3 linked regions of the Homo sapiens genome follow. Each later gene encodes a partner of the first gene's protein in a complex. Each region holds a gene or a part of one and is shown on either strand. Other genes may lie near its edges. A codon is read from its position in the direction of its gene.

Region 1 (7,024 bases):
GCAACCTAAGGTAGGAAAGAGCGCTGAGTGTGTCTCTAGATTCTAATTATGATTTATTACAAGAAACATTTTAACAATTCTTATTTAACAAATTCCAGAATATCTGACTCTCCTTAAACTTTAATATAAAAGTATCAGTTTTTTTTGTTTTGGGAGTACTTCTTTAAAATCAATTATTTACTGTATATCTTTATAATTATAGCAAATGTAATTAGGATATAATACTGTGTTGGGATTATTTTGCCAACTTTGTTAAATGACTTATTTACAGAAAATCTGACATCTTCTTTGCCTCTATTTTAAGTTTGACATCGAGTGGTTAGAATTTTGAGGAAGTTTGATCAATGATGAAATGATAGCTTGGTAGGGCATGCTAACCTAACTGTTTAAAAAATGTCTCTTCATAATTTATAATGACAAGCACTTAGGTTTTATTTAACTACACTAATGTATTCTATTTAAGTATGTCTAAGTACTTATAGCTTACCTATATCCATAGTATTAATACAGGCTCATGTCTAAGAGTAATTTGTAACTCTAACCTTATATAATGTTTTAGTTTCATTATTTCTAGTGATTCTGAATTACTGCTGTATTTTCTCATGCACATGATAATTAGATGAGCTTCTATCAAAGCATGTTCTTGTTTAATTATTACTACTGCTTTATTAAGGAATATTATTGTTTTTCCCACCTTCATTTCATATCTTCATAGTCCATGGTTATATATTTTTTATTCCAATAACTGACAGAATATGTAATAATTTAAGTTTTATTCAGCCAGATTATAGAGATGAAGAAAAGGATTTGCAAATTAGTTTGATTTTATCTTTGTTCAATCTCCTATCTACTGTTTGTATTATATATTTCTTTTTGTTGAATACAGTTAAGTTTATCTTTAATCAGGACTGACAATCTTTTTCAGTCCAAACCTCTTGAATAGCTAGGAGTAAAGACTTGACAAACTTCAACTAAGTAATATTATGGTAAGAGTCCCTTAACTGTCACACCTTACCTTAGTGGAAATGAGTTAACTAACTTAACACCAAAGAACAGTTGTAGAAGAATAAGCAATGTAGGAGAGAATACTGCTTGCAGTATTGGATTTAAGGGAATTTCCAAGATCTCTATTATTCACTGGCACATGGCGAGGAAATCTGTTTAAATCAGTTGTTTCCAGTTGGTTCTTCAGAGTAGATGGTGTTTATCATTATCAAGGCTCTGATATATCGAATATTAATGACAGATAAAAAAGAGAATCTCAATCATTGAGTATGTCTGCAAAAAGAGCTAGCTCCAATTTAAAAGGGTATTAATTTTCATAGAGAGGTAATATTTTTTCTGTGGTATTCCCCATGCTTAATGTACTTTCTAAACTTGGATGTACTTGGATAGAAATCTGTTGTTTTAAATTGAATATTCCTCTGTTCACCCTTATATTTCATTGAAAACAATATTCAGTGATATCATCAGTAAAACAATAGGTATGAAATAGGTGGCTTCTTTGTTTAATAAATATGATTTTTAGGAATCTGACAAAGAACTAATGAGTTGTTTTACTATAAAAGTTATGTTGATATGCATAAAAATAGAAAAAAATTCCAGATTTTTAGAGAAGAAAAAATATCTTAAAGATAGTTTAGGAAAATGTAAATGAATATAATCTAAAATATTTGTGTATTTGTCATTTTAAAAATATAAATAATTGAGGTAACTTCAGGATAAAAATGTCACTATGATGTGTCATTATATATTTTTCTTCTGAATCACATGATTTATATAGAAGTTTATCTGCAGAATATGAGATTCATCTTGTGTTATCTGAATGACTTTTTATCTGTACACCCCAAAGACTATTTCATGATATCTTATTTTGTTAAATAATTGCTAGTTTTCCAAAAGTATATAAGTTTCAAAAGTGAATTTAAAATTTCAAGAAGACTCATAGCCTGCAAGTCTGATTTTATATTTTCATTCTTTGTTGCTTATTAAAACTACAGTTGCATTAATGACTGTTGAGGACTTTGAGAAGAGTTAGTCTCCCAATTGTTGAAAGGCTAGTGGTCTGCTCTTCTTTTTTCCCTTAACTGTTCAATTCTCAGATATTGACCAGTGGAATAAGGTAATTGAACAACTAGGAACACCATGTCCAGAATTCATGAAGAAATTGCAACCCACAGTAAGAAACTATGTGGAGAATCGGCCCAAGTATGCGGGACTCACCTTCCCCAAACTCTTCCCAGATTCCCTCTTCCCAGCGGACTCCGAGCACAATAAACTCAAAGGTATGCCCTTCAGGAATGACTTGAGGACAACTATGAGGGTGACGGGCCAAACAAGCACACAGTATAGAGACCTCTATCTCTTTCTCTTTGTTCCCTTTTATTTTTAGTTGACACATGATAATCGTACATTTTTGTGGGATATAGGGTGGTATTTTTGAAACATGTATAGAGGTATAATGGTCAAATCAGAGCAATTAGCATAACCCATCACCTAAAACATTGATCAATTCTTTAATTGGCACAGCCTCAAGTTAAAGAAATATTTCTTCAAAGATCGTTCCTACAAAGGGGAGTAGCCACGGATTTTAGAATTGTCTGGATATTCAGGGCCGGGGGCGGTGGCTCAAGTCTGTAACCTCAGCACTTTGGAAGGCGGAGGCGGGAGGATCAAGAGGTCAGGAAATCGAGACAGACCATCCTGGCCAACATGGTGAAACTGCGTCTCTCCTAAAAATATAAAAAAATTAGCTGGGCATGGTGGCACACACCTCTAGTCCCAGCTACTCAGGAGGCTGAGGCAGGAGAGTCGCTTGAACCTAGGAGGAAGAGGTTGCAGTGAGCCGAGATCGGGCAACTGCATTCCAGCCTAGAGATAGAGTGAGCAAGACTCCGTCTCAAAAAATAGATATATATTATACTTCATAATGTAATTCCAATTTTCTTGAGTTTACTTTTTAAATCAATTTGAATCTCTGCAATTATGTTTGTAAATGATAAACTAGTTTGCATATTTGATTATTGAATTTAATTTTTAATATAAAATTGGCAAATTATAAATAATCTTAATATACAAATAACCAAAGAGAAGAATGTATTCTACTGTGTTTGGAAAAGAGCATAACACATTTGCTTTCAAATGAAAGAATGAAAGATAAAGCATTGAAACATTTTCCCATATTGTTTCCTAAAAATAGTATTGTTTCTTAGCAAGATGATTTTGTATTGGTGTAGTTCATGACCCTATTCATGAAGAATCCATTGTAACCCCAGCCCTTTCTTTTTTTTTTTTTTTTTTTTTTTGAGACAGAGTCTCGCTCTGTCGCCCGGGATACCGATCTAGGCTCACTGCAAGCTCCGTCTCCCAGGTTCACTCCATTCTCCTGCCTCAACCTCCCGAGTAGCTGGGACTACAGGCGCCCGCCACCACGCCCAGCTAATTTTTGTATTTTTAGTAGAGATGGGGTTTCACCGTGGTAGCCAGGATCGTCTCGACCTCCTGACTTCGTGGTCTGCCTGCCTCGGCCTTCCAAAGTGCTGGGATTGCAGGTGTCAGCCACGACCACGCCCGGCTAACCCCAGCCCTTTCTAAGAGCAGAAAAATGGATAGATTTGATGAGAGAATCTTATGAGAATGGTACATGAATTTGGATGTAAAATCAGTTACAAATTAAAGAGGTCTTTAAAGCAATGAATAAATAAACACAGCCCTGTTAGGCTATTAGGAGGCCATTGGCAATGAGAAAAATTAAATATTGAATTAATGTATAAGTATTTCTGTATTTTTGTTATTCCTGTGCGGTACAGAGTTTTAATTTGAAAGTAATGATAATCAGTTTCTAGGATTGAGTTTCCCAGAAAAATGATTAATAGAAATAAAAAATTCTCAAGTTTAACTAGTGATTTTTCATATTTGTTCAGAAAATTAAAAGATATATTTATTGATGTAATTACCAAGAAAATACTTACAGGTAAAAAATTAATTGCTACATTTTAACTATAGTATGGTTAATATTACGTGAAAAATACATGAACGGCACTAGAAAAAATATGCCAATAATCACAGTCATTGCCTCTAGCTAGTGGGGTTAGATATTATTTCCTGATTTTTGTATTTTATATAATTTTCAAATTTGTAGAATTAGCCAAGTTGTTTTAATCTGAAAAATTGATTAAATAAAAATTGATATGTATCCAGAGTCATCTATGTTGATTTTTTGAAAAATCCATTTAAATTTTGTTATCTTTAATTTGATGTTTTACCATATAGTTAGAATAAACTGAATATTTTCACGGTTCAACTTTCAGATCAGTTGAGTAACAATATTGATTTGAGATATTCATTTCTGTTAAAACTTTATGTAAAAGACTAGGGGAGGGATAGCTTTAGGAGAAATACCTAATGTAGATGACAGGTTGGTGGGTGCAGCAAACCACTATGGCATGTGTATACCTATGTAACAAACCTGCATGTTGTGCACATGTATCCCAGAACTTAAAGTATAATAATTTAAAAAATTTACATATTTTTAGAGGTTAAAATTAATGTGTCTTTTAACAATCTTACTAAATAAATAGCTATCACCATATAATTTTATAACTGTTACTGCCCACAACCATAAAATTAATTATGATAACCTTTACATAATATAGAGTTTCTCATTAGTGTCTGGTGTAGCATTAGACTGGCTTCAGTCTTTAACTACTGGATTTCATCAAGTCATGATTCCATTGATTAAAAATACCTGATGATTACAGAATGTTAAAATAAAATTCAGTAGTTGAATGATATTATTTCTATCACTTCAATTCTTTGATTGTTTTTATGTATATAAGAAATTTGTGGCTGGGAGCAGTGGCTCACTCCTTTAATCCCAGCATTTTGGGAGGCTGAGGTGGGAGGATCTTTGAGCCCAGAGTTCGAGACCAGCTTGGGCAATGTAGGGAGATCTTATCTTTACAAAAAAAAAGAAAGAAAGAAAAAATAGCCAGGCATGGTGGTGCATGCCTGTAGTTCCAGTTACTCGGGAAGCTGGGATGGGAGGATCCTTTGAGCGCAGGAGTTCCAGGCTGCAGTGAGCTGTGATCATTCCACTACACTCCAGCCTGGCAACAGAGGGATACCCTGTCTCAAAAATAAATAAATAAATAAATAAACAAAAACAAAAAGAAAAGAAAAATTTGTATGATACAAACTCTTAAGTCAATTTATATACTAAAATTCTGATAATTCCGTTGTATAAATAAGAATATAGAGACACACGTGTTGATTAACTTCAAACAGCCGTCCACACATTTGTTGAACATCATGCATTTGCACTCTGTGCTCTTTATTCTGTTTATCCTATATTCATGCAGGTTACCAAAGAAGATGACTTTGCTTACATAAACTCTCCAGGTTGATACATTTTACTAAGAAGTTTGCGTGAATAATTATATACCCAAAGTGTTACAACCCTTGGAGAGCCTCAGAATGAAGCCTTAGGCTTAGAGACACAAAGAAACAGGTGTAAAATGCATTTTCTTTTCCATCACATCAAGGGATTTACCTGATGTTTGGAAGGAAGATACTATTCCATACTTTGTTTTCTTAAATTTCCTCTCTGACAAATTTCCTTACTGAAATCAAAATCTTACTAATTGTTTTTCTCATTTATTGTTTCAGCCAGCCAAGCCAGGGACTTGTTGTCAAAGATGCTAGTGATTGACCCAGCAAAAAGAATATCAGTGGACGACGCCTTACAGCATCCCTACATCAACGTCTGGTATGACCCAGCCGAAGTGGAGGCGGTAAGAAATAGGCTGCCTTTACTTTGCTTCCACAAACAAATCATAGCTCATAGCAAAAACTGAATAGGACTAGAAGCCTAAAGAATGCACAATGGATTTTTATAAAATTTCTAAGTCCAAAGCCTATTATCTGCCCCTCTAAAAGCTATTTTCTTCAACATATGTTTTAAATACATTTTTTTCAGGACTTACTAGAAGAGGGTATGATTTAGTCCTACAAACCTTAGATGTCCATGATACACTACCATTTGTTTCTGTTAAATTGCCAATACTTGTGTTTCTTCTTGTGTGTTTGACTGCCAGTCTCTTCTAATGCAAACTTAGTGGTAGGAAACAACAGAGGACAAGTTGCTTAGCTTGTATTTTTTTTTTGAAAAGATACCTGCCACTAGTAAAATGTGATACTTAAGAATATTTCAATTAGAAAGCTTTTATAAGATGATTAAAACGATTGGTGGCTTTGTGAAACCTTGCATGAACTAGATGAACTAGAAGTGGGTATTTCAGTAAGTACATTACTTCAGGTTGATCAGTATGATGTATCTCCATGTCTGATACCCAGACATGGAGAATCTTCTCAGAAGCATAACTCTTTCTATTTTAAAAATATTTTTCAACCATTTACTATCTTCTGTTCAACCTCTTTCTTTCATCTTTACCTCTCTCCTTTCCTCTGTATGGATCCAGGGCTGAGCAGGGCAAGGGGGGCTTGCTGTTGCCCATGTGTGTTCTATAGGCCTCCTGATGAGAATTTCCTTTCTGCACTGCCTTTAAATGTTTCTATCAGGAATGTTACCTTCTCCCTTAAACATGAGAAGCTTCTCAAATTCTTAGAGTACCTGTGCTAAAGCATCTCATATTTTTTTACATAATACCTTCCAATCCATTTGTTTGGATTTGTTCTTAATCTTTCATTTGAAATACTGTTTGTTTCCCCAAAGTATTCTTAAAGATATTTTCACTTTCTTTCAGTTTTCTTTCCTCTGCTTCACCATGTGTTTTTCCATGTCAGAGGTGCTAGATTCAAACACATAATTCTCATTTCTTCATTCTTCACTAGAGAAGATACGAAAGAAAGTGAGAACTAGGTAGAATTGAACTTTACAGACACAATATTAAACAGGTCCTTTTCATAATGTAACCCAATCTTTAAGCATTTAAAAACTTCAGAGAAAACACTTAAGTGATTAATGAATCTCCCAAGTGTGAAGACTGCACTACATTTTGTTTAA
Region 2 (7,024 bases), on another chromosome or scaffold:
TATATATATATATATATATATGTGCAGAGGTCACTGGCAGAGCAGGGGCATTTCAGGGCACCTCTGGGTCAGCGGTCCTGCAGCTCTCCCATGCCATCTGAGTACCAGGGGCTCCCTTTTGCACCACTGGCCTTCTCGGTGACCATCTGGGCAACCAGTGTGAATTGAACACTTACTTGGTGCTGGCCACTGGGTTTTTGTCCCTGAGCCTGAGATGCCACCCTGCCCTGGCCGGACGGAGGAGGGCTGCTCTGGCTTCTGGGCCAGGCCCTCCTCCCCACTTCCACCCCAGCTGGCCAGCCACACCCTCCCCATGGCCTGGGGAACCACCACCCTTGGGCTGCAGGTCAGACGTGACCCTACAGGGCACCTTGTCCATCCAGCCCCCATTCCCCACCCCTCTGTGCAGTGCCCTCCAGGGGCCTCCAGGTTCTGTTTATGTCATTCCAAAGGGAGAGGAAGCTCATTACCACACAGCAGCCCTTCCAGCTCTGCTCTAAGGGCCCAAACACTGGCCTGCCCTTAGCTGTGGCTCTGGTGCCTCCTGCTTCCATAGGCCCTGCCTTCCTGGGTCCTGAAGGCTCAAGCTCTGGCTGCAGAAGGAGGCAGCCCAGATCAAACCCAGTTTGGATGCAGCCTGGGCCCACAGAAGCCTCTCTGATGAGGTCGGGGGGCTGAGCCTATGGCAGTGCAAACCGAGTGTTCATTCTTAGGGTGTTTGGGAAGCCCCCCTTCATCTCCCACCTGGCACCCTGACTGGGGAACTGGCCCTTTAAAGCCAACCAAGGGCTGGCTTTTGGGGGGAAACATCCTAGATTTCTGCCATCTACTTACAAGCCTGGGCCAGGGAGGGGGGGCCACTCAGCCCCCGACAGGGGCATTGGAAGGGCAGGTGGAGCCAGTGGCATTGATTGCAGTAACCTGATCCCGTGAGGGAGGCGGCCACAGCGGCAGCAGCGCAAGGGCCAGGCCAGCCGGGAGGAAGGTGCCTGCAGCTGAGGGCTGCGCTGGGAAGAGCTGGGGCTGGGACCCGGGTCGGCAGCTGCAGCCTCCTCTCCTGGCCTGTCTATTTTTAATGAGCTCCCCAGGCTTCTGCAGCAGGCAGGACGCAGAAAGACAGGCCCAAGCGGTGGAGGCCAGAGGCCCCCAGCCCTGCCTTGAGCCCTGGCCCCCCCACCCTTCCGGGCATGAGAGGGCAGCCCTGGGGCCCCGCAGCCCCCCGGCCGGGCAGGGCTCTCCATGCAGCTGGTGCTGAAGATGGATTCGAGCCCAGACAATGACAGCTGGTTGGAGGATCAATGGGAGCGCTGGTAGGGGCTACCGGGGCTGGCGGGGGTGGAGACCGAGTTGGGGTGAGCTCCATCGAGCTCAGGGTCTCTGATCTGAATGAGGCGAGTGGCAGGGAGTCTGGGCCTCCTAGGTTCCCCTGGGGGCTAAGCCACCATCTCTCCTGGGTGACCTTGAACTAGTGGGTTTCCCTTGCTCTGTGCCTCAATTTCTTGGACTTATTTGGGAAAAGGCTCATACATTCTCCCCAACTTCCTAAATGTTCTACCCCCCCACCACCCCCCCAGCAAGCCAGGCAGAGTGCCCAGGACCTAGAGGTGAGCAAGAGACAGGCTGCCTTGCAGTGGCTGGCCCAGCCCTGCATTCTGAGGTGGGGACTCAGGGCTGGCCTAGGGAGAGGGGGGTTCTAGTGGAGCTGGTTAGTATTCTGGTGCCCTGGTGCTCTGAGCTGTCTCCCAAGGTTGTAACACCTCTGGTCCCACCTGGGGCTTCTCCTGACCCCATCTGTGCAGCCTCCTGTTCAGGGTCCTTACACTGGATAAGGAGAAGATGTTGTGGTTGAAGAGATGAGACCACCAAGTGCACAGCATGAGGCTGGAGTCCTTTCTGGAATAGGCTGAAACTACCCACACTGACACCAGATTTTCCTTCGCTTGTTCCCTGGGCTCAAGGGGCATGAGTCTTCCTGAGCTGGGGCGTGGGGCACTCCTCTGAGGCTGCTGCCGGCGCCTCGGGTCTTGCTACTGCAGGGATTGCACTGGGAGCTCCCCTACTCCAGGCTGCTCTTCTCAAGTCCACATTCTCCATGGTGAACTGGCCTTGGCACCTGCCTTGACCCTGGGAGGAGGCTCTGACCAGTTGGGCCTTCTAAGCACTGCCTGCTGGTTGGCAACAGAATGACAGCTTCCAGGGAGGAGCCAGAGTGACCTGGAGCCTCCTCTTCCACTGCCACCCTAGGAGGACTGCCTTTTGGCACAAGCCCCTCGCTCTTTCCCTGCCTGCTGACCACCCCCTGCATTGATACAGATGAACCCCAAATCCTGTCCTCTGGGGGCTGTGTTTGGCCTTCAAGAGGCTGCACCCTGGAAGAGGTAACAGGGAGATGTGAGCAGGCATAGTGCCCCTGAGTTGTAACTTTGGCTTCCTGTCCCCACCAGGCTCACCCATGACATCAGCCTGGAGGAGTTTGAGGATGAAGACCTCTCGGAGATCACTGATGAGTGTGGCATCAGCTTACAGTGCAAAGACACCCTGTCCTTACGGGTAAGGGCAAGCTCCCAGGAGCTCCTGAGTGGGGTGGCAGGAAGGCTAGGGACAGGGGTAAGGGTATCCCCATAGTGACAAAGGGGGTTTCAGGTCTGTGCTGGCACCCTCATGAAATGAAATGATGTGCAAGAAACATAGGTATACTGCTTGGCACGTCTTGAGTGTACAATCAGAATTTCATTTGGTATTATTATTATTATTACTGCTGTCGGGGACTAAGACAGGAAGTAGCTCCTTCAACTGCCCACGAGATGGGAGAGGCCAGGAAGTCTTGAGACCTAGGGCAGTAACAATTAGGACCAGACTTAAGGGAGACTCAGGGCTACCCCTGAATCCTTTTGGGAGCAGCCCTGGCAGAGGGCCTGAGGCAGACAGGGTGGAGTCTGGTGGAATCTGCAGTGCTTTAGGGCAGGAAGAAACAGCCAAGGCACCCCTGGAATAGCTCCTGTGGCTGCTGGCTGCTATTACACCAGACAGATGGCACCACGCGGCCTCCCAGACCCTCTCTGGCCTATAGTCCTAAAGGCCCCCACTGAGGGGTTTGCCCAGCATTGCTGCTGGTTTGGGCCCCTTGGCTTTGTCATAGGGAAGATGGCTCTCTCCTGTCCCTAAAGATCTGAATGCTGCCAGGAGGTCCCCAGCACCTGGGTAACTGGGGTCAGATGGGGATCCCAACTATGTCTTTTCAGAACAGGAAGAAGGGGCCGGCTTGCCAGGAAATGGAGGACAGAGCACAGGGCTAGGTTTTAGAGCCCAGAGCTCCTCTGAGCCCCCAAGAGGGCGGGTAGCCAGATACGGTGTCAGGAGAGTGGTTACCATAGGAGCGTGAGGTGTGCCTTGGGGAGGGAGTACCTGTCTCTGTGTTGACCTCCTGCTACTCCCAGAGACTCAGTAAGCTCTGCAAGAGGAAACCAAGGGGTGAGGATAATCCCCTAGTCCCCAGTACCCCAACCTTCCACTCTCTGGCCAGGCCAGGAAGAGGCAGAGGCCTCTAGATTTGGGGAATGGTCTCAGAGCCCTGACTTAGCTTCTCAGAGGTCAGGCACCTGTTCTGGACTCTCACCCTGCCCTCTCCCCCAGCTGCACCAGCAGAGCCTTGGAGAGGGTTGCCTCCGAGCTAGGCAGGGGCCCCAGGCACTACTGGCCAGAGGTGTGCCCCTAAGGGGCCTCAGACAAGCTCCAGCGGGCTTCACACACGTTCCAGTGAATACTCAGCTCTCTCAGAGGCTGGGAGGCAGTAGTGTTATCCCCACTCAACTGATGAGGGGGCCTGAAGGATCAGGGGATCTGTCCAAGGTGCCAGGGAGTTGGCGGCAGAACTGGAGCTAGATGGGGCTCTGCATCCTCAAGGCAGGCTCGTGGAGGACCGATCTAGGGCTGGAGGGGCCCCGGGCCAGCTGGCTTAGGGCGCGGCTGCCACCGCCTTGGTTCCTGGCCCCCGCTCGCCCCTCCCCCTCGGCGTCTCCTTCCCATCCCTCTCAGGTCTCCGCCGTTCCTTGCTTGGCTGAGCCTCAGTTTTTCCAGTTTTCCTCAAGACCCCTTCAAATACTATTTCCCCAACCCCCATCCCTTGCCCACCCCACCCCGAACTCCTTGGCGACCACTGAGTCCCCATAGCAACAGCGGTGACTTCACTCTGGGCTCGGCTTACAACCCCGGTGAGGTCACCGGCCGTTGCCAGGGGAACGGGAGGGCGCAAGGAGTCCGGGGTGGGGACTGTGGGGAGGTGCTGGCCGTCAGAGGCACGGCTGGATCGGGGAGGCGGCGGCCTCGCGCTTCCTCGCGGCGGACGGGCGAGAGCGCCCCAGTCTCCGGCGGCCCCTGCTCGGCTCCCCTCGTGCCCCCTTCGCGCCACAGAATGGACTCGCCCGGGCGGGGGGCGGTGCAAGCGGCCTCGGCCCCGCCCCGGCCCCGCCCCCTGACGCCCCTCCGTGCGCTGTGCAGCCCCCGCGCGCCGGGCTGCTCTCTGCGGGCGGCGGCGGCGCGGGGAGCCGGTTGCAGGCCGAGATGCTGCAGATGGACCTGATCGACGCGACGGGGGACACTCCCGGGGCCGAGGACGACGAGGAGGACGACGACGAGGAGCGCGCGGCCCGGCGGCCGGGAGCGGGGCCGCCCAAGGCCGAGTCCGGCCAGGAGCCGGCGTCCCGCGGCCAGGGCCAGAGCCAAGGCCAGAGCCAGGGCCCGGGCAGCGGGGACACGTACCGGCCCAAGCGGCCCACCACGCTCAACCTCTTTCCGCAGGTGCCGCGGTCTCAGGTGAGGCGCCAACGTGGGGGGCGGCGCCCTGGGCCGCCGCGGAGATGTGAGGGGGAGCGCAGAGGGGCTGCAGCGGGAAGGGGCACCCACGGGTCCAGTGCCTGGGGACAGCGCCTGCATAGGGGCCGCGGTGGCTCGCTCCCGGTGTTGGGATCCGAGGAGCGGGCAGAACCATCCTTACGAAGAGGGGGCTGAGTCCAGCTGGCCGGGCTTGGAGCCTTGAGGCGGGATTGAAGGAGGGAAGGACTGGGGTTAGGAGAGGAGTAGGGAATTAAGAGAATGAGGCTTTGAGGGGTTCGAAGGGTTTGGAGCCTGGGACCTCAGGCTGTGACAGGGTTTCTCCTTTAGGATATGGGGCTCCTGGTGAAAGTGGAGCAGGAGCAGGGCCTGGAGAAAAGGGCATCTGAAATGGTCATCGTGGGGGAGGCCGTGGGAGATCGTGGCGAGGTGGGGATGGGAAGCTCAGGGGCCACAGCCAGTTTAAGATCTGGGCAGCTGCGAATTCCCAGAAGGCAGGGGGGAGGAATGGGAGATGGAGCTGCTTGGCTAAGTTGGGGACCTAGGGCCCCTGGGAGGGTGGCTGGATGCCAAGGAGAGTTGAATAGGGTTGGGGGAGCTGGCTGTGGCCCTTTGTCTTCCAGGCCCATCGGGAGCGGTGCAGGCAAGGAGCTCCTGGGAGGTGGGGCGGCTGGGGCTGCGGGGAAAGGCTTGGTCCCTTTCCCAGGATCCTGTGAATGGCTTTTGGCAGCCCGGCTCAGGAACGTGAGGGCTTGGGAGAGAGCTCCCAGGGGAGGGAGCCTCCGTGGAGTGGAGGGAGCCCTGTGTGGGCATTGTGGGGAGGGGTCCCAGGGCTGAGAATGTAGAATGGGCAGCCCAGGAGATCCAGGAAGGAGGGCTGCTGACAACTGCATCTGTCACTCCTCAGTCTCATGCCACTGTGGTGGGGGGTGCAGGAAAACTCTGTTATGGATTTGTCACTGGGATGATTCATCCTGGTCCCCCAGGCCAGCTGCTAGGGAGACCCTTCCTTGTGCTTTTTCCAGGCTCTACCAGAAGGTCCTCACCCCTTCTAGGCCATAACTTCCCAAGCTCCAGAGCAGAGAGTCACCTGTCTCTGACTTGGGCTGGATTTGAGCATTTTCCAAGTAACCCTCAGTACCTGGGACTGGGGGTCTGACTGTGTCTCCAGAGAGCTCCTGCTTCTCTTCTCCCCTGCCTCCTCCCCCTCTTGCCACCACACACATTGGCCATCACCACCTTTGTTAAGGCTGATAAGAGCATCTCCCTGAGGGTTGGCCAGCTTCCCTGAGCAAGGCGGAGGGCCATCCAGAGCCGGCAAGCCTGGCTGTGACTTGCCACCCTTCCTGCCTGCTCCAGAGGAGAGTTACGAGTGAGGCCTTTGACAGTGGAGGCGGGGTGGACACAGCAAATGGCCCTAGGGATGGCCTGAGGGGGCAGGGCCGGGGCCTCCCTGTGCCGGGCACTGTTGACCACTTCCATCACAAGAGCCTTTTGTTCCCTGCACAGGACACACTGAATAATAATTCTCTGGGCAAAAAGCACAGTTGGCAGGATCGGGTGTCTCGATCATCCTCACCCCTGAAGACAGGTAAGTCAGGGCCCTCTTCCTTACCTGGACCTCCGCCTGCCCTGACTCAGTCCCCACTACAGAGAGCAAACCCTACAGTCTCCAAAGGGCTGAGTAGAGGTGAACTGCCCACCCACATCCCTGCACGAGCCCATCCAGGGGCTGAGATCAGTGGTGGCATGAGTGAGTTGACTGGCCCCAGAGCCTGCGAAGGGCCTGTTGCCCAGGGAGGCTTTGTCTTGGTTTCTGTGTCACCAAGCTGAGAGTGGCAGGTGCAGGTAGCTGGGAGTTGGGAGAGAGCCCCTGCCTTCATGACCTGCCTGCTCTCCAGGGGAGCAGACACCACCGCATGAACACATCTGCCTGAGCGATGAGCTGCCCCCCCAGAGCGGCCCCGCCCCCACCACAGATCGAGGCACCTCCACCGACAGCCCTTGCCGCCGCAGCACAGCCACCCAGATGGCACCTCCGGGTGGTCCCCCTGCTGCCCCGCCTGGGGGTCGGGGCCACTCGCATCGAGACCGAATCCACTACCAGGCCGATGTGCGACTAGAGGCCACTGAGGAGATCTACCTGACCCCAGTGCAGAGGCCCCCAGACGCTGCAGAGCCCACCTCCGCCTTC
Region 3 (7,024 bases), on another chromosome or scaffold:
CTGAGGCTGAAGGGGTCCTATGCTGCCCAAGCTCCCCAGCTGGAGAGCAGCAGGGACCCCAGGCCCTGTGCCCCAAGGAAGGCTGCTCAACTACAAGGTTGGCAGCTCTGCCACAAGCTACTTGTATTTTCCAGAGTCCTCATCAACCCCAGCACTAAGCAGAAAACTGATCCTTTGTCCCTGTCTGTGCCACTGCATGTGGCCTAACAGAGCACACCAGGGCTGCTGCCACCTCCTAGTATATCGGCTTCAGCCATGGCTCCAAGTGTGGCTGCCTGATGTCACCACAGGAAGTGTGAGGGGCCGCATAGATAATCTTGGGCACGTTACGTGGGAACCCCAGTGTCCCGCTGTGCCTGGAGGGATCGTGTAGTCCAAGCCACTGCCATTTCTTCAAGACAGCCCTGGGCCTTTCTGAGCACGGAATTTTCTTTTATTAGACCCTTAAGTAATACTTTGGAAGAAGAGGGTGAGATGAAGCTCCCTTGTTCTACAGAAACAAGCATCCTAGAGTACCCAGAAGGCAGACAAGGGAGGAGACATTCTCTAGCCCTTTGATCACACAGCTTTCAGCTGGCTGAGCATGCCAGGCCCGTGAGGCTCTAGGAGGGGTCAACATGAGCACCACTGGGGGAAACGCTAAGTCCAGAGAGTTCCCAGTTACTCGACACTGTTTCAAAGCCAACCATGCAAGTGTGTGTCCTGGAGAAAGAATTATGTTCTGCATCATCCATTACATTCGGAGAGCCTGCTCTGCACGCTGAAATTCTGAGTGGCACAGGGACGTGATGGGGGAAAGCTTTGCCACAGGCTTTTGTCTCTTGCTGGTGTCTGTTTTTAACTCATCTGTTCAATGAGGGGCATTTCCAGCCTATGCAACTGTGAAGGGATCTGGGAAGAGGAATATCAGCTCAAAGGTGGAAATCCTGGCATGTGACCCGGAACACCTGCCAATCTGCAGAGGTTGCCCCCAAGCCCAAGAAAACCAAATGGGCCCTTCCCTTCAGTGGCCACAGAGAAGGCACATATCAGCTGGCCCTCCCAGGGCCCTATGAAGCCCTCATGACCTCAGGAGTACAGGGCCATCTTGTATAGCCCCACAGGTCTTGCACTGCACAACTCCAAAAAGCGCTATTCCCAAAGTCTGTGGTATGAACGGTGCCCTGAGTTATACAGTGTGGAGGTCTGGGGATGCCACTCCTTGGGAGGCCACCCACTATCCACTGGGGCCCTGGGACTTAAAAATGAGAGATACACAAAGCAGAAGCATGGTTTGTTTATCTTTAAACAACAGATTAAATGACTTCTGAAATGCTTGCTTATAGGCTGACATGGGTCTCCAGCTGGGGTGGAAGAAGGGCAAAAAGGAAAAGTGGCCCTTCAGCTAATTTCTTGGAAGAAGCTACCTTACATTTTGTCCTTTTCATATCTATCGGGCTTTGGCTTGTGAACTTCCAAGATTTCCAGCCACCCCTTCCATTTTTCTCGAGATGACCCAGAAAAGTTGTTTCTAGCCCACGTCTAGCTCTGTGAGCATCACGCCCACTAGGGGGCAGGAGGCGCAAGGCCACACAAAGCCAAGCTCAGCCGAGAGTCTCAGGCTGCAGGGAGAGGTGCGTAAAGTCAACGCGGATTTGACTCTTGAAGTCATTTGTGTGCCAAGCTTTCTATTTAAGGAAGCACAAGGCCATCTTTAATTATCAGATCCCCCAGGACTTGAGCCACTGTGGCAGGTGACATTTAAAAGGGAAATCCTATTGGCATTAACCTGCTGACTTTTCTAATCCAGTCCCCCAGACGGCTTTCTCAAGGAGTCACCAAGACCTCTTGCAACCCCGTACCCGCGCCGTCCAGGGTCTTATTGGAGCTGCTGAAGCCACAGGTCAGCTCACCCACCCACCCTGCAGCAAACCAGCCCTACACTCGTTTTCCAGGCGCTGGGAATCTAGACAGAGAATGCAGAGGGGCACAATGGACCCAGGCTGGTGTGGGGGGATACCAGGAACATGAGCCTGGGCAGCCCAGGAGCCAAGCCTGGAAGGGGGAAGAGGTATCCAGGAACATTCTGCGTGACTTCTAAGAAACCCGATAGAGTTAGGCAGGGGTAACCAAGTACTGCTGAGCCAAGAACTGTCCCTAGCTGCTATGGTCTGAACATTTGTGTCCTCCCAAAATTCTTATGTTGAAACTGATCCCCAGTGTGAGGGTATCTGGAGATAGGGCCTTTGGGAAGTGATGAGGTAATGAGGGTAGAACCATCATGAATGAGATTAGTGACCTTATAAGCTCATGTACCCCTTCCACCGTGTTAGGACATGGAAAAGATGGTCATCTGTGAACCAAGAAACAGGCCCTCATGAGACACTGAATCTACCAATGTCCTACCTACCAATGCACTTCTCATCCTCCAGAGCTGTGAAAAATAAATTTCTATTGTTTACCAACTACCCTGTTTATGGTATTTTGTTTAGTATTTTGTCTTGGCCTGTACAGACTAAGGCACACCATTTCTGGCTCTGAGTAACGCAGTCAGAGAGGTGGTCATGAGAGCCAGTAAAGAACCCAATATAATGACATAAAACCCAGCAAGCCAAGCTGTGAGTAAGGATCACACACAGTCCGCTTCCTCTGTGCCTGTCAACTCCCTGAATCCCAGCCCAGAAGGCCTGTCGTAAGTACACACCTGATTCTGGTCTAATCCGCCATGACCCCTGCCTTCCTCCGACAGCACATACCCGAAGTGCAGCCCCCATTTAGGGCTGTTCATCAAGGTCTCCCCATCACAGATTCGAAACCCAGCCAGTATTGCTGGGGTTCCATGGGAGCAAACCCTGGAAAACCTCGTCCCTCTGGAAGCCTGAGTCCAGTCAAGACCCCCTGGGGATGACCCAAACCAGACAAACCTCAAGCAACATAAGGGAAGGAGCAGCTCTCGCTGTCACGGAGAGACACTGTGACTCATTCTGGAGCACTGGCTTCGTACCAAGCGCAGCCAAGAGATCATACGGAGATGACAACCTGTGATTTTCAGGGTGTTTTCAGGCAACATGCCTGGGAGTCGAGTCTGTTACCTCCGCTCAGGGGAAGCCAGCGCGCATGCACGCGCACACCCCCACAGCACACCCGGCCATGACTCATACCCTCTGAGTGGCGTGATTCAGCATCTCCTGCCAGGCGGAGTCGAACTGCCGCTTGTCATCCTCCAGCAGCCGCTGCTCGGCCAGGGAGATGGTCTCCTTGGCGGCACGGAGCACCTCTGTGGCCCTCTGGAAGTCCTGCGTGGCTTTCTGAGCTTCCAGCTGAGCCTGTGTGAGAAAGAATCCTCATGAGGCCTCAGAAAATGGCAGGGGCTCCCCATGGTCCATTTTACCTTTCAAAAAATAAGCATCCCAAGGACCAGGACAAGCTCATCTCTGCCTCTTCACTCCTGGCACCCACAGGTCCTCATAGATGCCAGACAGGGCAATGGACCCCTGATGGGGGAGTGAGCAACAAATCAGTGAGCGAACAATTTCCACAGTTCTGGGCCCAATGGATGAGATAAACACATCAGCCCTTGGCCAGAACCTGACATGGCAAACCAGCCCATCGTGGGACAGGTACAGCCAACCCCACAGCCTTTCTCAGAAGCTCTGCCTCACTCGAGGCCTGTCACCTTCCCTGCCCAGATCTGTGGCTCAATTCATGGCAAGTCAGAACCAGGAAGGCCCCCAGAGATCATGGTCCAAAGACTTCACTCTATAGAAGGGGGACCTTAGCTGAGAGGACACAGCCTTTCCTGAGATCACACAGCTGACTAGATGCAGAGCTGTGCCAGACTCCAGCCAGTATGAGTTCCAGCCCAGCACTGTCACTCTGCCAGACAGTCTCCCACTCAACTCACACCCACTGACACCAGCGACAGGCCAAGTATGGCACCAGGCAGGCAAAGAGAAGGACCTAATTAATTAACACAACACGGTCCCTGCTTTCAAGGAGCATCAGGTGGGAGAACCAATACCAACTGTAGCTGACCACCACGTCTAGAGCTGCCCCCACTACATGTGTCTACTGATTGTTCAAAATGTGATTAATCCCAGCCAGGTGCAGTGGCTCACACCTGTAATCCCAGCACTATGGGAGGCAGGCGGATCACTTGAGGTCAGGAATTAAAGACCAGCCTGGTCAACATGGTGAAACCCCATCTCTACTAAAAACACAAAAATTAGCCAGGCATGGTGGTGGGCACCTATAATCCCAGCTACTTGGGAGGCTGAGGCAGAAGAATCACTTGAACTCAAGAGGCAGAGGCTGCAGTGAGCCGAGATTGCACCACTGCACTCCAGCCTGGGTGACAGAGTGAGACTCCATCTCAAAAAAAAAAAAAAAAAGTGATTAATCCCAATTGAATGTAAGACATCCCTAATCTTAAAGACTTAGTACAAAAAAAAAAGAATGTTAAATATCTCAATAATTTTTATTATATGATGAAATAATATTTTGGATATATTAAATTAAATTAAATATATTATTAAAATTAATTTCAGCTGGGTGCAATGGATCCCACCTCTATTCCAGCACTTTGGGGGGCCAAGGCAGGAGGACCACTTGAGGCCAGGTATTCAAGACCAGCCTGGGAAACATAGCAAGACCCTACTTCTGGAAAAAATTAAAAAATTATCCGAGCATGGTGGCACATGGCTGTATTCCCCACTCCTTGGGAGCTTGAGGCAGGAGACCGCTTGAGGTTACAGTGAAATACAATTATGCCGCTGCACTCCAACCTGGGTAACACAATGAGCCCCTGCTTCTTAAATAAATAAAATTTAAAGATTAAATTCACAGAGGCTGGGCACGGTGGCTCAAACCTGTAATCCCAGCACTTTGGGAGGCTGAGGCAGGTGGATCACAAGGTCAGGAGTTTGAGACCAGTCTGGCCAACATGGCGAAACCCTATCTCTACTAAAAATACAAAAATTAGCCGGGTGTGGTGGCATACGCCTGTAGTCCCAGCTACTCGGAAGGTTGAGGCAGAAGAATCGTTTGAACCTGGGAGGTGGAGGTTGCAGTGAGCCGAGATCACGCCATTGCACTCCAGCCTGGATGACAAGAGCGAAATTCTGTCTCAAAAAAAAAAAAAATTAATTTCACCATTTCATCTCTCCCCATCTTTCCTTTTTTACTGTGACCACAGGGAAACTTACAATTATACAGGCGATTCCAATTCTATTTCTTGTGGACAGTAGATACCTTTACCCCAAGATGGGCCATGTGATGGCAGCTGTGTGACTGCATGAGAAATCAGCACTGAAACATCACAGTCACCACTCTACAGGCTCACCTTGAATTCCCCAGCAGGGTAGAAGCCACAAACCCGCCTCTGCAGCGTCCCACCACCCTCCCTCGTCCCACCACCCTCCCTCGGTTAACCACATCCCCAAGTCAGTTACATAAGCCCTGGTGGGACGTCCCTAAGGCAGCCCCTGGGACTCGGGAAGAGGGGAACTACAGGGACCCCACCCTTCCCCAAGCAATTCTTGCATGACTTCGAGGAAGTCTTCAGAAACCACAGGCTGAGGACGCTTTGTGAAGAAGGTTAAAGAAGGGGGAACAAAAAAATCAGAGACTCAGAGCACGCCAGCCCCCAAGGCAAAGAACAGCTTTTCCCGAGCACTCTGTGATTGTGTACTGCATACCAGACCCAGACCCAGCCCTCCAGGCGACGATGACAATCAGATGGAGACCCGAACCAAGCATGGAGTGGACACTCAGAAGTCTGTAATACAACGCTGTATGTGACAGTGCCACAGCAGGAAGGGAGGAATGGCAGGGAATGTGAAGGAGAAATTATTTCCAGTACAAAGAACCAAGGAAGGCCTCTTAAAGGAGGAGGATCCCGAACTCAGGACTAAGGACACAAATGATTTGAAAACATGGGCTGATGAGGTGGGGGACAGAAGGAAGGATTTGAGACTCTAAAGACATTACAAAACAGAGTGCCTGTAGGATAAAGACATTACAAAACAGAGTGCCTGTAGGATAAAGACATTACAAAACAGAGTGCCCGTAGGATAAAGACATATTACAAAACAGAGTGCCTGTAGGATAAAGACATTACAAAACAGAGTGCCTGTAGGATAAAGACATTACAAAACAGAGTGCCTGTAGGAGATTCGATGATACCTCAGATCAAATTTTTAAAAAGGACTCCAGTGAAGACCTTGAATGAATGCCAGGCTAAACCTTCAACCAAAGTGGCCCAGGGACCTGCCCCTGCTGTGGACTCACCATGTGGCCCTGGGACCAGTCGCCCACTTCCACTCAGGTGTGCCTCAGCTACACAAGGAGAACAAGGATGCCCACCCTCCCTAGAGCTGACCAACTCACCCCCCCAACCCCTGCCCCACCTCGTGCCTCCAGGCCCATTAGTGGTTCTTAGTTCTTTCATGTGAGGACAGCCCTGCAGGGCCTCCGCAGGCCAAGCTGCTGGGAACGAGAGGAAGCAGAGGGAACCTGTCACCTTAAAAGCCACTCCACCCCCTACCCATAGGTGGCCTCTCCTACCTATATGCTTCACACCAACTCCAGGAGACAGGATGAATCCCACAGGATCCTAAAATGGGATTTGTATTTGCCTTTTTAGGAATTTTTTAGTATTTCAATTCAGCAACATTTAAGGGTAAACTCTCTTCTCCCAGTTCTCTCTGCTTCAGTTATGAATCCCTTATTTCTTCAAGCAAGAAAAGATGCTCTTTTGACGGCCTTCTGAAAGGTGGCTGCTGTACCACGGGCCCAGCACCTCTTCACACCCTCTGCCATGTATCTGATGAGTTCCAAATAAGAGAACCAGATCTCTACAAAGGAAAAGAGGAAGCCCATGTGAAGCTGCCTTTGAGAAGAACATGTGCTGTCAAATTCCGGACAAGCGTCTGAAGTTTCTGCGAGATTCCTTCTCCTGTACAGTGACATAGGATACATGTTTGCCTTGCCATATCACAGGTACAACTAATGTGAGGCCTCATTCCACATTTAACCCACAGAAACC

The links. Proteins that work in one complex are often made in the same cells at the same time.
Region 2: the proteins of MAPK10 (region 1) and MAPK8IP1 are in contact, whole or in part, in a crystal structure (PDB 3PTG), measured with the Homo sapiens proteins. Residues at the interface, in NP_620448.1 of Homo sapiens: Asp150, Ala151, Gln155, Val156, Met159, Leu161, Glu164, Arg165, Tyr168, Leu169, Tyr171, Val197, Lys198, Ser199, Asp200, Cys201, Trp362 (codon at 5,766), Asp364 (codon at 5,772), Glu367 (codon at 5,781); in NP_005447.1 of Homo sapiens: Pro158 (codon at 4,762), Lys159 (codon at 4,765), Arg160 (codon at 4,768), Pro161 (codon at 4,771), Thr162 (codon at 4,774), Thr163 (codon at 4,777), Leu164 (codon at 4,780), Asn165 (codon at 4,783), Leu166 (codon at 4,786).
Region 3: the proteins of MAPK10 (region 1) and SH3BP5 are in contact, whole or in part, in a crystal structure (PDB 4H3B), measured with the Homo sapiens proteins. Residues at the interface, in NP_620448.1 of Homo sapiens: Lys121, Asp150, Ala151, Gln155, Val156, Met159, Leu161, Glu164, Arg165, Tyr168, Tyr171, Val197, Lys198, Ser199, Asp200, Cys201, Trp362 (codon at 5,766), Asp364 (codon at 5,772), Glu367 (codon at 5,781); in NP_004835.2 of Homo sapiens: Val341, Val342, Arg343, Pro344, Gly345, Ser346, Leu347, Asp348, Leu349, Pro350.

Annotation. Positions count from the first base shown.
Region 1 is NC_000004.12:86,063,034-86,070,057, reverse strand, and holds part of MAPK10 (mitogen-activated protein kinase 10), read left to right. Parts: intron 1-2,102; coding exon 2,103-2,285; intron 2,286-5,667; coding exon 5,668-5,792; intron 5,793-7,024. UniProt on the Homo sapiens protein: Serine/threonine-protein kinase involved in various processes such as neuronal proliferation, differentiation, migration and programmed cell death.
Region 2 is NC_000011.10:45,895,641-45,902,664, forward strand, and holds part of MAPK8IP1 (C-Jun-amino-terminal kinase-interacting protein 1), read left to right. Parts: intron 1-2,444; coding exon 2,445-2,550; intron 2,551-2,755; exon of another isoform or gene 2,756-2,831; intron 2,832-3,405; exon of another isoform or gene 3,406-3,451; intron 3,452-3,811; exon of another isoform or gene 3,812-3,895; intron 3,896-4,497; coding exon 4,498-4,812; intron 4,813-6,339; coding exon 6,340-6,421; intron 6,422-6,731; coding exon 6,732-7,024. UniProt on the Homo sapiens protein: The JNK-interacting protein (JIP) group of scaffold proteins selectively mediates JNK signaling by aggregating specific components of the MAPK cascade to form a functional JNK signaling module. Required for JNK activation in response to excitotoxic stress.
Region 3 is NC_000003.12:15,266,573-15,273,596, forward strand, and holds part of SH3BP5 (SH3 domain-binding protein 5), read right to left. Parts: intron 6,808-7,024; exon of another isoform or gene 6,544-6,807; intron 5,289-6,543; exon of another isoform or gene 5,184-5,288; intron 3,306-5,183; coding exon 3,141-3,305; intron 1-3,140. UniProt on the Homo sapiens protein: Functions as a guanine nucleotide exchange factor (GEF) with specificity for RAB11A and RAB25. Inhibits the auto- and transphosphorylation activity of BTK. Plays a negative regulatory role in BTK-related cytoplasmic signaling in B-cells.